2 separate regions of the Homo sapiens genome follow, and region 1 is reported to be linked to region 2. Evidence: microRNA targets listed by miRTarBase, many of them from high-throughput screens and not tested one by one. Region 2 holds a microRNA gene; the other region holds the end of a gene's coding sequence.

What was found. The annotated mature microRNA hsa-miR-7702 reads CUUAGACUGCCAGACUCCCUGA and lies in region 2 at 3,080-3,101, opposite strand. An mRNA with a match to its seed (bases 2 to 7 or 8) in the 3' UTR can be bound and repressed. Matches are read on the target gene's strand: a 7mer-m8 pairs with bases 2 to 8, a 7mer-A1 pairs with bases 2 to 7 and ends in A, and an 8mer does both.
Region 1: miRTarBase lists CYP4V2 as a target of hsa-miR-7702. Seed matches in the 3' UTR shown: 7mer-m8 at 1,141-1,147.

Annotation. Positions count from the first base shown.
Region 1 is chr4:186,209,645-186,215,032 of GRCh38, forward strand. CYP4V2 (cytochrome P450 family 4 subfamily V member 2) reads left to right here. Exons shown (of 11, transcript NM_207352.4): 11 at 825-3,819. The coding sequence ends at 997. It also overlaps a transcript of KLKB1 not described here. Among named protein-coding and RNA genes, the nearest start is that of KLKB1, 15 kb to the right of the region's middle.
Region 2 is chr9:111,268,114-111,273,501 of GRCh38, forward strand. It overlaps MIR7702 (microRNA 7702), which reads right to left and starts at 3,101; the gene lies at 3,043-3,101. It overlaps LOC105376219 (a long non-coding RNA gene), which reads right to left. Exons shown (of 2, transcript NR_188622.1): 2 at 4,430-4,852.

The DNA.
Region 1 (5,388 bases), not on the chromosome of region 2:
CTTTCCTCTGTGTGGGTCTGTGTCCTGATCTTCTCTCCAGTCAGACTACACTAGGGCCTACCCCAATGACCTCACTTATACTTACTGACCTCTTTCGATTACCTGTCTCCAAATACAGTCATATTCTAAGGTATGGGGGGGGCTTAGAATTTGGAGAGAGACACAATTACCCATAACATAAAACATAATTAGCTTCATGGTAGAGTTTCAAAATGTTGTAGAGTTTTAATTACAGTAGAATATAACTTATTGTGGTAAAAACTTTATTAATGATTACTTATGGTTAACCTAATTTTTGTGTTTATTGCTTTTAAGAATTTCATTTTGCAAATCAAAACAGCAAATGCTTGCCATATGGCCAGCTAGTACTTAAGCAAAATGAATGCACATCACCACCCTGCATTATAAACCCTTTTGGTTTTAGTATCTCTAGCATTTTGTCATTTATGTAAATGCAGACATCGGTAAAATGAGGCCAGAGTGAAACGGGTGAATCTGAAGCTTTTTTGGTGAATCCATAGTAAATGAAAGACCCACTAAGACATAATCTAGGGTAGTGAGTCTCAAGCTTGAAGGAGCTCAGGATTTATCTGGATCAGCTGGAGTACAAATTCTCTGATCCTCCCCAGCTATAGATGTGCAAGGTGGGATCAGGGAGGGAAACTCAAGACTCTTCATCTTTAACAGGTGTTCCAAGCCATTCTGGTTCTCCTTCCACCTACTGCGAAAATGTAAAGTGGCTCGCTTCCTATGACAGGACCTCTTGTTTCTCACATTTGGGGTAAATCTATAACTAAAGCGATGGTATCTACATTAATTTGAAGGTCAAAAGTTTGCTGTGATGGAAGAAAAGACCATTCTTTCGTGCATCCTGAGGCACTTTTGGATAGAATCCAACCAGAAAAGAGAAGAGCTTGGTCTAGAAGGACAGTTGATTCTTCGTCCAAGTAATGGCATCTGGATCAAGTTGAAGAGGAGAAATGCAGATGAACGCTAACTATATTATTGGGTTGTGCCTTTATCATGAGAAAGGTCTTTATTTTAAGAGATCCTTGTCATTTACAATTTACAGATCATGAGTTCAATATGCTTGAATCCCCTAGACCTAATTTTTCCTTGATCCCACTGATCTTGACATCAAGTCTAACAAAGAAAAAGTTTTGAGTTTTGTATTTTCTTTTTTCTTTTTTCTTTATTTTTTTTTTTTGAAACCGTGTCTCACTCTGTCGCCCAGGCTGGAGGAGTGCAGTGGTGTGATCTCAGCTCACTGCAACCTCCACCTCCCAGGTTCAAGCAATTCTTCTGCCTCAGCCTCCCAAGTAGCTGGGATTACAGGTGCCTGCCACCATGCCTGGCTAATTTTTTTGTATTTTTAGTAGAAACAGGGTGTCACCATGTTGGCCAGACTGGTCTCAAACTCCTGACCTCAAGTGATCCACCTGCCTCAGCCTCCCAAAGTGCTGGGATTATAGTCGTGAGCCACCACGCCTGGCCAGAGTTTTTTATTTTTATCACCACCATAGATGTTACAGTTGGCTGTGGTCACAAAAGTAGTTAATTGTGTCAGCACCCAAATAAACATCTAACAGGTTTCTCAACAGAGGAATCCACAGTCCAATTCCACTTCAATTGATAGACCCAAAAAATATAATTTAATCAAAGTTCTAGAGTTTTTGTTTGTTTGTTTGAGATGGAGTCTTGCTCTGTCGCCCAGGCTGGAACGCAGTGGTGACATCTCGGCTCACTGCAACCTCCACCTCCCAGGTTCAAGTGATTCTCCTGCCTCAGCCTCCTGAGTAGCTGGGACTACAGGCGCCTGCCACCACGCCCAGCTAATTTTTGTATTTTTAGTAGAGATGGGGTTTCACCATGTTGGCCAGGATGGTCTTGATCTCTTGACCTCGTGATCTGCCTGCCTCGGCCTCCCAAAGTGCTGGCATTACAGGCATGAGCCACCATGCCTGGCCCAAAGTTCTAGAATTTTTTAAAGGTATTCATGGTGACTCAGGAATACACACATACACACACACACACACACACACACACACACACATACACACATATAATTTGAAAGAGGTGAGTATGTACTCTGACTTCAGCTCTCAGGTTTTAAAAATTATATTAGTGGGACCAGTTATGACAAGAATAATCATTATAGTACTTTTCAGATTTTATAACCTGGAGCAGATTATTTTAAGTTGATTAGTAGGTTCTGTTACAGTTTTTCTTTTGATCGTGCACTTATAGTCTTCATTTAATTCCTCATAGAATCCCAGTCACCTTTATATATCATATTATTGGAAGAGATTCATCTTCATAATCTCCAGTTTTTTCACAGTGCCTCACAGAGTTAATCATGCCTTTTGGAGCTAGAAGGACTTTAGAACTTATCTAGTTATGCTCCTTTATATTATAAGTAAGGGAATAGAATCAATAAGACAGTTTCTGCCCAAAGTCATGTTACCAGTTGGTGACAGAGCTGGAAATACGTAGAGATCTATACCCTTAAATCTCTCCACTCACATGCTGATATACTTTCTACTACAATATGCTATAGCTTTATGGAACTCAGGGTGATGATCAGACGTGTCATTAGAACATGAGTCCTCTGCTTCTGATTCAGGCATACTTTTGGGATTCTTCCATCTTTAAAGGAAAAAGGAAGCCATTCATCTATATTTAGTAACCCAGTAATATCTCACTTAGTTTAGGGTTAGATCTTTAGTTAATTCAACCTTATAGATCATACTTATGAAGGTGATAACTGACACGTGTTCACTGAATTTTAATTTGATAGGCAATACATCTACCCACTCCATTATTTTTTAAAACTTCATTTAATAGTTTAAACAAGATTGGTTTTGTTTTCAATTTTTATTCACTCTTCATAGAATCACAATTACCTTTATATATCATATGTTATTGGAAGAGATTCCTCAGTAATCTCCAATCTCTCATAGTGCCTCACAGGGTTGGTCAATGGCTTTTGGAACTGGAAGGACCTTAGAACTTATCTGTTATGCTCCTGATAGCCAATAGCAGATAGAAGCTTGCAATCAAGAGGGTAGGACATGTGTTCTTCAATGGATATCAAAGGAAGAGGTTGCAAACCAAAGCCATTTGGCAAGCCCTGTAGCCTGGGCCATTTAAGACAGGGGCGGTCTCAGCCAAATTGCACCCATTTAACTATCCCAAAGAGCCACAGTGCCTACAACCCAGGCCCTAAGTTGATGAAGAAAAAGTCAAGGAAGGAGGTGATACAATTGGAAATATTCCCATCAAATGGTTAATCTTATTTAGAAAATGGGCATATTAGAAAAAGTCCTTCCAAGATGATTTTGGATAATAAAAGTTGTATTTGTGGAAATTGGTATTATCTCTGTTTTATGCACTTACATTTATCCCTTACATTTTGTTTTTAGTGACCCTACATGACATTAAATTTAAAGTAAAACATTGTTTAATGTTACCTTTTGGCTTGAGAATGTCTTTCAGCTCCAGAATTATTGTTACTCATATTTTAATCAGTAAGTCATTTAAGCTATGACAGAGTAGGAATTGAGAAATTATTTCATATGCTACAGTATTGAAATGTGGATGCTGCCTTGTTTTATAAGAAGATGATCAAGGTTTGTGTGCCCATTACCTTTCCTCTGCCTGAAAGACGTGTCTCAAGAAAAATAAATTCTATTTTAGATGCAGGTACTGCATTTTATTCTAAGAATTGATATCAATTCAAAACATAGAAAACTGTAAAAGATAAATCAGGAGATGGCTGATTCATAATGGGTAATAAAATAAATAGCACTTTCGAGCTGATGTCGTCAGTGACTCTTGGATTTTCTAACAAAAGGTTCCTTTACTGTTGTCATAGAGAGATTGTGAATTTCTCTGACTCTGAAGAATCAACTAGAAGAAGTAGAATCACCAGAACATTTTGCTCAGCTGAAAGCACAAAGTAAACTCAGTTACTGGGAATCAGCAAAAACCACAGGCATCACTGGTCCCAGGGATTTAGAGTCCAGAAACCTCTCCAGGTGATGGACTGTTGATTTGGGGCTCTATGCATTGTCACAGACAGCTGGGGATATCAGTTTCTGGACCAAATGACCCAATAAGAGATGCTGGTCGTAAAAATCCATTTTTATCTGGAATGTTTCTAGAAGATCAAAACCTTTTTCCTTCCAGCATCTAATGCCTGAGTGATACATTTAAAAATTTTTAGTCTGCGTGGGCACCCTCTTTTTCTAGGAGCAGCACTTTTTATTTTTGAAATTATCCTACAATGAATTACCGGCTTTTCTTCTGTTCTCATCTTTTTCCTTCCCCAGCATACACACACTGTAAATATGTGCCATATTCTTAGGCAATCCCACTTTCTCAACCTTTGTTGAGTGACCCAAGCAAGGTTAAATTCGAGTTCTCCCCAACGAGTTTTCCCAGCTGCAATTGAAGAAGAGATACAGTCCATCTCTGTGGTGGAAACTCCAGGTTGTGAAACTCAAGATCAATCAGCAATAGAACCTCTGGAGCAGCTGCTGGGTGATGAGAAGAAGCAGGCAGAAGAAATGGACAGAATCCTGGAGGAACCTGAGTCCCACATGGCAGGTGATGCTGAGGCTCACTGCATGTCTGCCCTGCTCACTCTTCAGTGGGTCCACCCTACTTGGGAACCCAAGAGCCAGTATATTGCCGTTTGCTTAAAAGGACTGTCTTTCATTTATGACCAAAAGCGAGTTAGTGTGTGTCAGGTCAGCCGAAGGATGAAGGAAGGGCCCCCATTCTCTGGATATGATCTTAGGTCTTCACCCTATTTTCTTTGTGCTGTTCAATAATTCTCTGTATTGGATCATCAGCATATATGCCCACCAGTCCTTTAAATGCAATACCATTTAAGAAAATGCAGAGTTTTCTCTTTTCTAGATAGTAGGAAAGTTAAAGTTACACTGCATTGTTTTAGAAGACAGCTAGGCTTAACCTAACACATCAGTCTAGTTTTTTGGTTCTGCCATGATGACTTTCTGGACTAATTAGTCATTTTTCTCCTCTAATTAAACCAGGTTCATTTTCCTGCTGGCTAGCTGTATGCCACATTTCAGGGATAAATCTCTCATCTCTAATTACTAAAATGGACTCGTTGCATCCTTGCCTCAGTTTCTTGTCCAGAAGTTCACCAAATGGTTATTTCCTTGGGCTGAATTCAGTTTTGGAATTAACTCCAGCATTTAGCTGTTGATCTTGTTCTCTTTATCCTAGTAGATAAGTTTTTGGCACGTTCTTTCTCCTTCCCATCATTATCTCTCCTCTTTACCCGTCACTTTCTTTCTGTTGTGGTTTGCATTTATTGATCTCTGCCTTTCCTGATACTACTCAATTTATGTTTCACAG
Region 2 (5,388 bases):
CTCAAGGTACAACTCACATTTTATCATCTAGTTCTATAGCATTCCAGTTAGAATTCAAAACATAATAGACATTCAACAAATGATTATTAAATTTAATAAAGACAAAGTAGCTGTAAAGCAACTTGACATTTGTTCTTGCATGAAATTAAGAGTGAATTTATCCACTGAAGTTTTGAGCAATGTAGAGTTTTCTCCCCTACACGTGATATTTGAAGAGTTTCTTATTTGGACTTGGCATTTGTGTCCACAGTACTATTCTAAAACAGCTAGTCATATTGCTTACATAACTACCTCAAGATCCAGAGACAATGGAATACTTTTTATGATCACCACCTTCTGAGAAGTAGGTCAGAAACACCATATTTTACAGTTTTTCCTCGAGTATAAAGATAACCATTACTTCCCATTGCCCCAAAATGTCCCTTGTGAAGAGGAAGAGCATGGCTAAACTGGCTTGTACTCCCAGCGTTACAGAAGCATGAGACTGGCTCTACCTTTTACCATTGCATACTTAAGCTTGGGCAAAGAAGACTCCTGGCCTTCTCTAGCCATCTTCCTTCTCACAAATCAAGACCTTTCTGGAGCCAAGGGTATATGCTCACCCTCAACCTGCTTCTCTCCCTCTAGACCAGGCTTCTTGTACCTGGACCCCAAAATTCTCTGCCAAAGTGTCCCTGAGCTCACTTCTAGAGCCAGAGAATGCCTCTTCCCTAGGCCCTGTCTCTTGAGAACAGAACACACCAATGACAAGAACATCCTTAGGCCCAGGGAATGGCCAATAGAGAGCCATTTGTGGGGATGCGAATGGGGATTGTAAATATGGGATAGAGTTTCCACACACATGCATGTGAGACCTCTCATTGTATAAGACAGACCTAGAGTGAGAAGAGAAGGCAGAGCCAGAATATGAACTGCAAGACAGGTTCTCCCTGCTGCTATGTTCAGAAGCAAAACTTGCAGAAGTCCAAGACCCCTGACCTTCCAAGTCATTATGAAGATATATTAGTCAAGGTAGGTGGATAGAAGGTATTTTATTAGCTTGAAGTATCACTTGTGAATATTTAGACAGCATAGCATGTGGGCACTCACTTGTAGCCTTGCACTGGGCTCCACCAATTTTAGAAGTGGGCCTGAACTTACACCTACAGAGAACTGTACTGGTAGAGCAGGTCTTTGGTGCACCCAACAGAGAAAGCAAGGAGAGGCAATATCAGGAGTCAGGCAGGCAAAGGGGGAAGAGTAGTGAGAGTTTCTGCACACACATGGCATATCCAGGAATTAGCTCTTAGATAAAACAGATGAGAAAAATAAATTCTGAGCGTAGAGCTAAGTTTTGAGCCTTAACTAGAGATGGCATGAGGAAGCAGCCATGCAGAGTCCTAAGAAAGAAGTCTGGGCCAGCATCCAGGAGAACACGCCAAGCAGGAAGAAATAGACAGGAAGCCAATTCCACACCAGGCATCATTTTCGGACTCTGGGAGTGCCACTCATGATGCTTACAATGTGAATGGTGCCCTGGGGTTAGTACAATGCTGCAGCAAGGCAGCAAGGCTAGCAACAATAATTCCATGTTTCTACAAATATAGGATGACCCTGCAAGTGACAGCAATGTCAGCTATTCCTCTTGTGCTTGTGTCACCTGAATATCAATGAACAGGGTCTGCAGTGTAAGATTCTAGCGATGGAAGTCTCCAGAGGTGGTGGGAGCTGTTGACTGGGCCCATGCTGAAATAACATTGCATCAACCACTTGTAAATGCCAAATTCCACAATGGTAGGAAGGCCAACTGAGTAAAAGCTGACTGGGTATTCTGTCTAGTCTGTTACATGTCCCAAGAGAAATGAAGCAGGGGACATCCTTTCTAAGTCATGCTCAAAATCAAGAAACACAGATAAGTCAATGCCCAGTTCTGTCTAAAGACAGAAAATTTTCCAGTCAGAATATATATGCTAACAAAAAAATCCTTGGACAATCTCTCAGGAATTCCAATGTATCACAGAATGTATGTTAGTGAAGCTAAGTGTAGTCAAAGGATTGATTCTGGAATCACAAATCCAGGTTCCTGATAGTAAGCAACAGAAACTAACAAAAGCTAGTGTAAGCAAAAATGATGATGATGATGATGATGATGATGATGATGATGATGATGATGATGGAATGCTTTGGAGGAGCTCTCTGAATTGAAGGGAAGTCTAGTAAATTAGTCTTGGAAAAGACAAACCCTATAAACACACCAAGGGATCTCATTTAGAAAAAATCTTAGGAAACTAGAAGGGTGGATAAGTTTCAATGATTCTCAGTACTTTTTTCTCTATATACAGGAGTCATATTTCAGAGAAAAAAAAGCATTCAACTGGCCTAGTCAAGACTATTCATATACGTAGTGTATAGGAATTAGGGAAAACAGGATACCTTGACTAACACTCCTACAAAACTGCATCAAATAGGGAAAGTAAAATTCCCCTCCAAAAGAAGGTGAAATGGACACAAGGCAGCCAAAAATTAGTAAAGGTCATTGCAGCTACTTATTACATTTGTGAATTTAGGTAAACCATTTACCCACTTGGATTTTCTGCTAAAATGTGACATCATAGGTCAGAGATCTTTGTCTCACTTTCTCATTGATGTATCCCAATTGCCTCAGGTGAAACCTGACACATGGAGGATGCTTCATGAATACTTGTTGAAAGAATGACTCTCTCCAAGACTCTTCCCACAGTTAAAATGGAGATGTCTTGTAGAGTCCACAAAATGTCTAGTACATTGCTATAACATAGTAGCTGCTCAAAAAATTCTGATTATAGTTACTGTTTTTATTAGGATAAATAGTACTAGAATAATTTGCTATAAACAACGTAGAAAAATTCCAGTGTTAATATATCCAAGTTACTCTATGGAATCCCAACACAAAACAAAAGTTATTCATTATGAATTCAATGAAGCCTGTTACCAAATCCTGGGACAAAGTAAATGATTTGACCGATGATGTAGTCATATGAACAGAAATGAAAAAGTGAATTTAAAAAGACTCGCATTGGTGCCACACTTAGACTACCAGACTCCCTGAAACTGCATGTCCTCAGGGAGTCTGGCAGTCTAAGAGTGGCACTAAGTGTCATTAGTGCCAGACCCAAAATATAATAACCTGATTATCTCTGGGCTTTCAATAATGATGTCATTCTTTTCTTTCATTCTTAGTTGATTTAATTTTCCTTACTACATAGCAGATATTCCAATAATTTTCATAAGTCTCTGCAAGACCCCATTTCCACCTAGACTCCAAATCATATTCCCCCTGCTTTTTCCTGGGCATTATTTCAGCAATCATCTCTTCTTTACTGGGTCTTCAATCCCCAACACACCCCCACCGTTTCAAGTTTCCCTTTTCTCAGACTACAAAACAGCTCACTATTCCCTTTCCTAAAACTACTTTTATGACATTTATTCTCCTTCAATTACTGTATCTTTTCTGCCTTTGCTTTCATTGACAATCTGCTTTGCAAGTTCTCTACACTCAGTCTCCTCTTCCCACTCACTCTTCAGCTCATTGAAACTGTCTCCTGCCCCCTCCACCCTTTTGAAGCTTTTGAGACAGAAGTAGGCCCTGCTGAGTGCTAGATCCAGGTCTGCTACTTCCATGGCCCCCACCCCAGTCCCCTCTTCAGTATCTGAGCATTCAATTCTAGTTGTATTTTCTGGCTTGTTCTCTCGGCAAATATACATTGAGTACCTATTAGTCACCATCCTGGGTACCAGAAATATAAAAGTGAATAAGATCTAAATGCAAAAATGATCTAAACGCAACAGTGATCTAAATGGAATGTGGTATCCTGGCTTGAATTCTAGAATAGTGAAAGGATATTTGTGGAAAATCTGGCGAAATCTGGATAAAGTCTGTAGTTTAATTAATAGCATTGTACTAATGTAACTTCTTAGTTTTAACAAATGTACCCTGGTTATGTAAAATGATAATGTTAGGGGATGCTGGGTGAAGGATATATGAGAATTTTCTATAATATCTTTGCAACTTTTCCATAAATCTAAAATTATTCCAAATTGTAAAAGTCTTAAAAATTGAGTAAGGTATGTTCCCTGCCATCAGTGAGCTCACAGTGATACACAATCTTGGGATAAATGAGGCAAATTGTGGGAGAAAAACTATGAACTACCGATTCTTCCATCGAAAATGAATGCAATCTGCCTTTTTTCCCCATCATGAGTTGTACAATTTTGTATGCATCTATGTACCACACTGTAAATATTTCATGAGGACAGGACAGAGGAGTATCTAAAGGTGAATTTTTTCACAGTTCTAAATAATACATTTTGAGGCTTTGGGAGGTCTCAGATTGATCGAAGCCAACCCTAGCTAAATCACTCCACTTTCTAAGACGTTGAATTTAAACATATTACTTACATACTTTCTTTGTTCTTTTCAAGGCAAATAGTTTAATGTTTGAGGGAGTAGTAGGCCAAATAGAGGTGATTTTTGTTGTTGTTGTTGTTGTTGTTGTTTAGCCTTCTTATTGTCTGGCTGCCAGGGTTCCTGGAAATGGGATTTTTAACGAGCTTTTTTTTTTTTCTGGAGAAGACTTTGATGTGGTTGAAAATTTATTCTCTCTCGAGCGTAGGCAGGGCACCAATTAACCCACACAGAGTGCCCTTGCTGTCCTCCCAGCTTGGAGTTTATTACACTTACCATGTAGTGTATAACACTATTATCCCATCTCCTTTGTGCTTCCCTCCTGTGGACTCAAAGCAATTTCTTAAGCAGCTTTCTGCTGTCTCTCTCCGTCTTTTAAATATCTCCATTTTGCTTTTTTCCATAAATAATCTTCTGATTGCAATGGGGCTGGAAGAGAGAGGAAAGGTGAAATAGGAGAGCTGCTTCTTCAACCAGCTGATTGAGCCAGGAATAATGGTGGTTTTAATCACTTCAAAATCCATTTATGCAGAACCTACAACATGATAGACATAAGGGTACAGAGATGAATAAATAAGAAATGGGACTAAGGACTTGCAATTTTATGGTGGAAAGTGTCACATACCTAAGTACAGAACAAGGCAGAGAGAAATGAAGGCTACAATTATTTCCCCGGTATTTTTTTAAGTGACAGTTACATTAAAGAATTGTTTTTGTACTACAATGACATTGCTCTTGGTTAAATGGAAATAAAGCAACTCTGTGACTCTAAGACCTTCAGTTTGATGGTCGGAAAAAGAACTAAGAAAGTTAAAGAAAAGTAATTTAAATATGAAAGTTGGAAGCATCAGGCCAAAATGTGCAGGGTCTCAAGTTGCCAGCATTCTGTTCTCCACTACTGCTCCAGTGGGCTGACTCAACATCTCTCTTCCTTCTCCATTTAGGGTTTCAGATTTTTCTTTTTA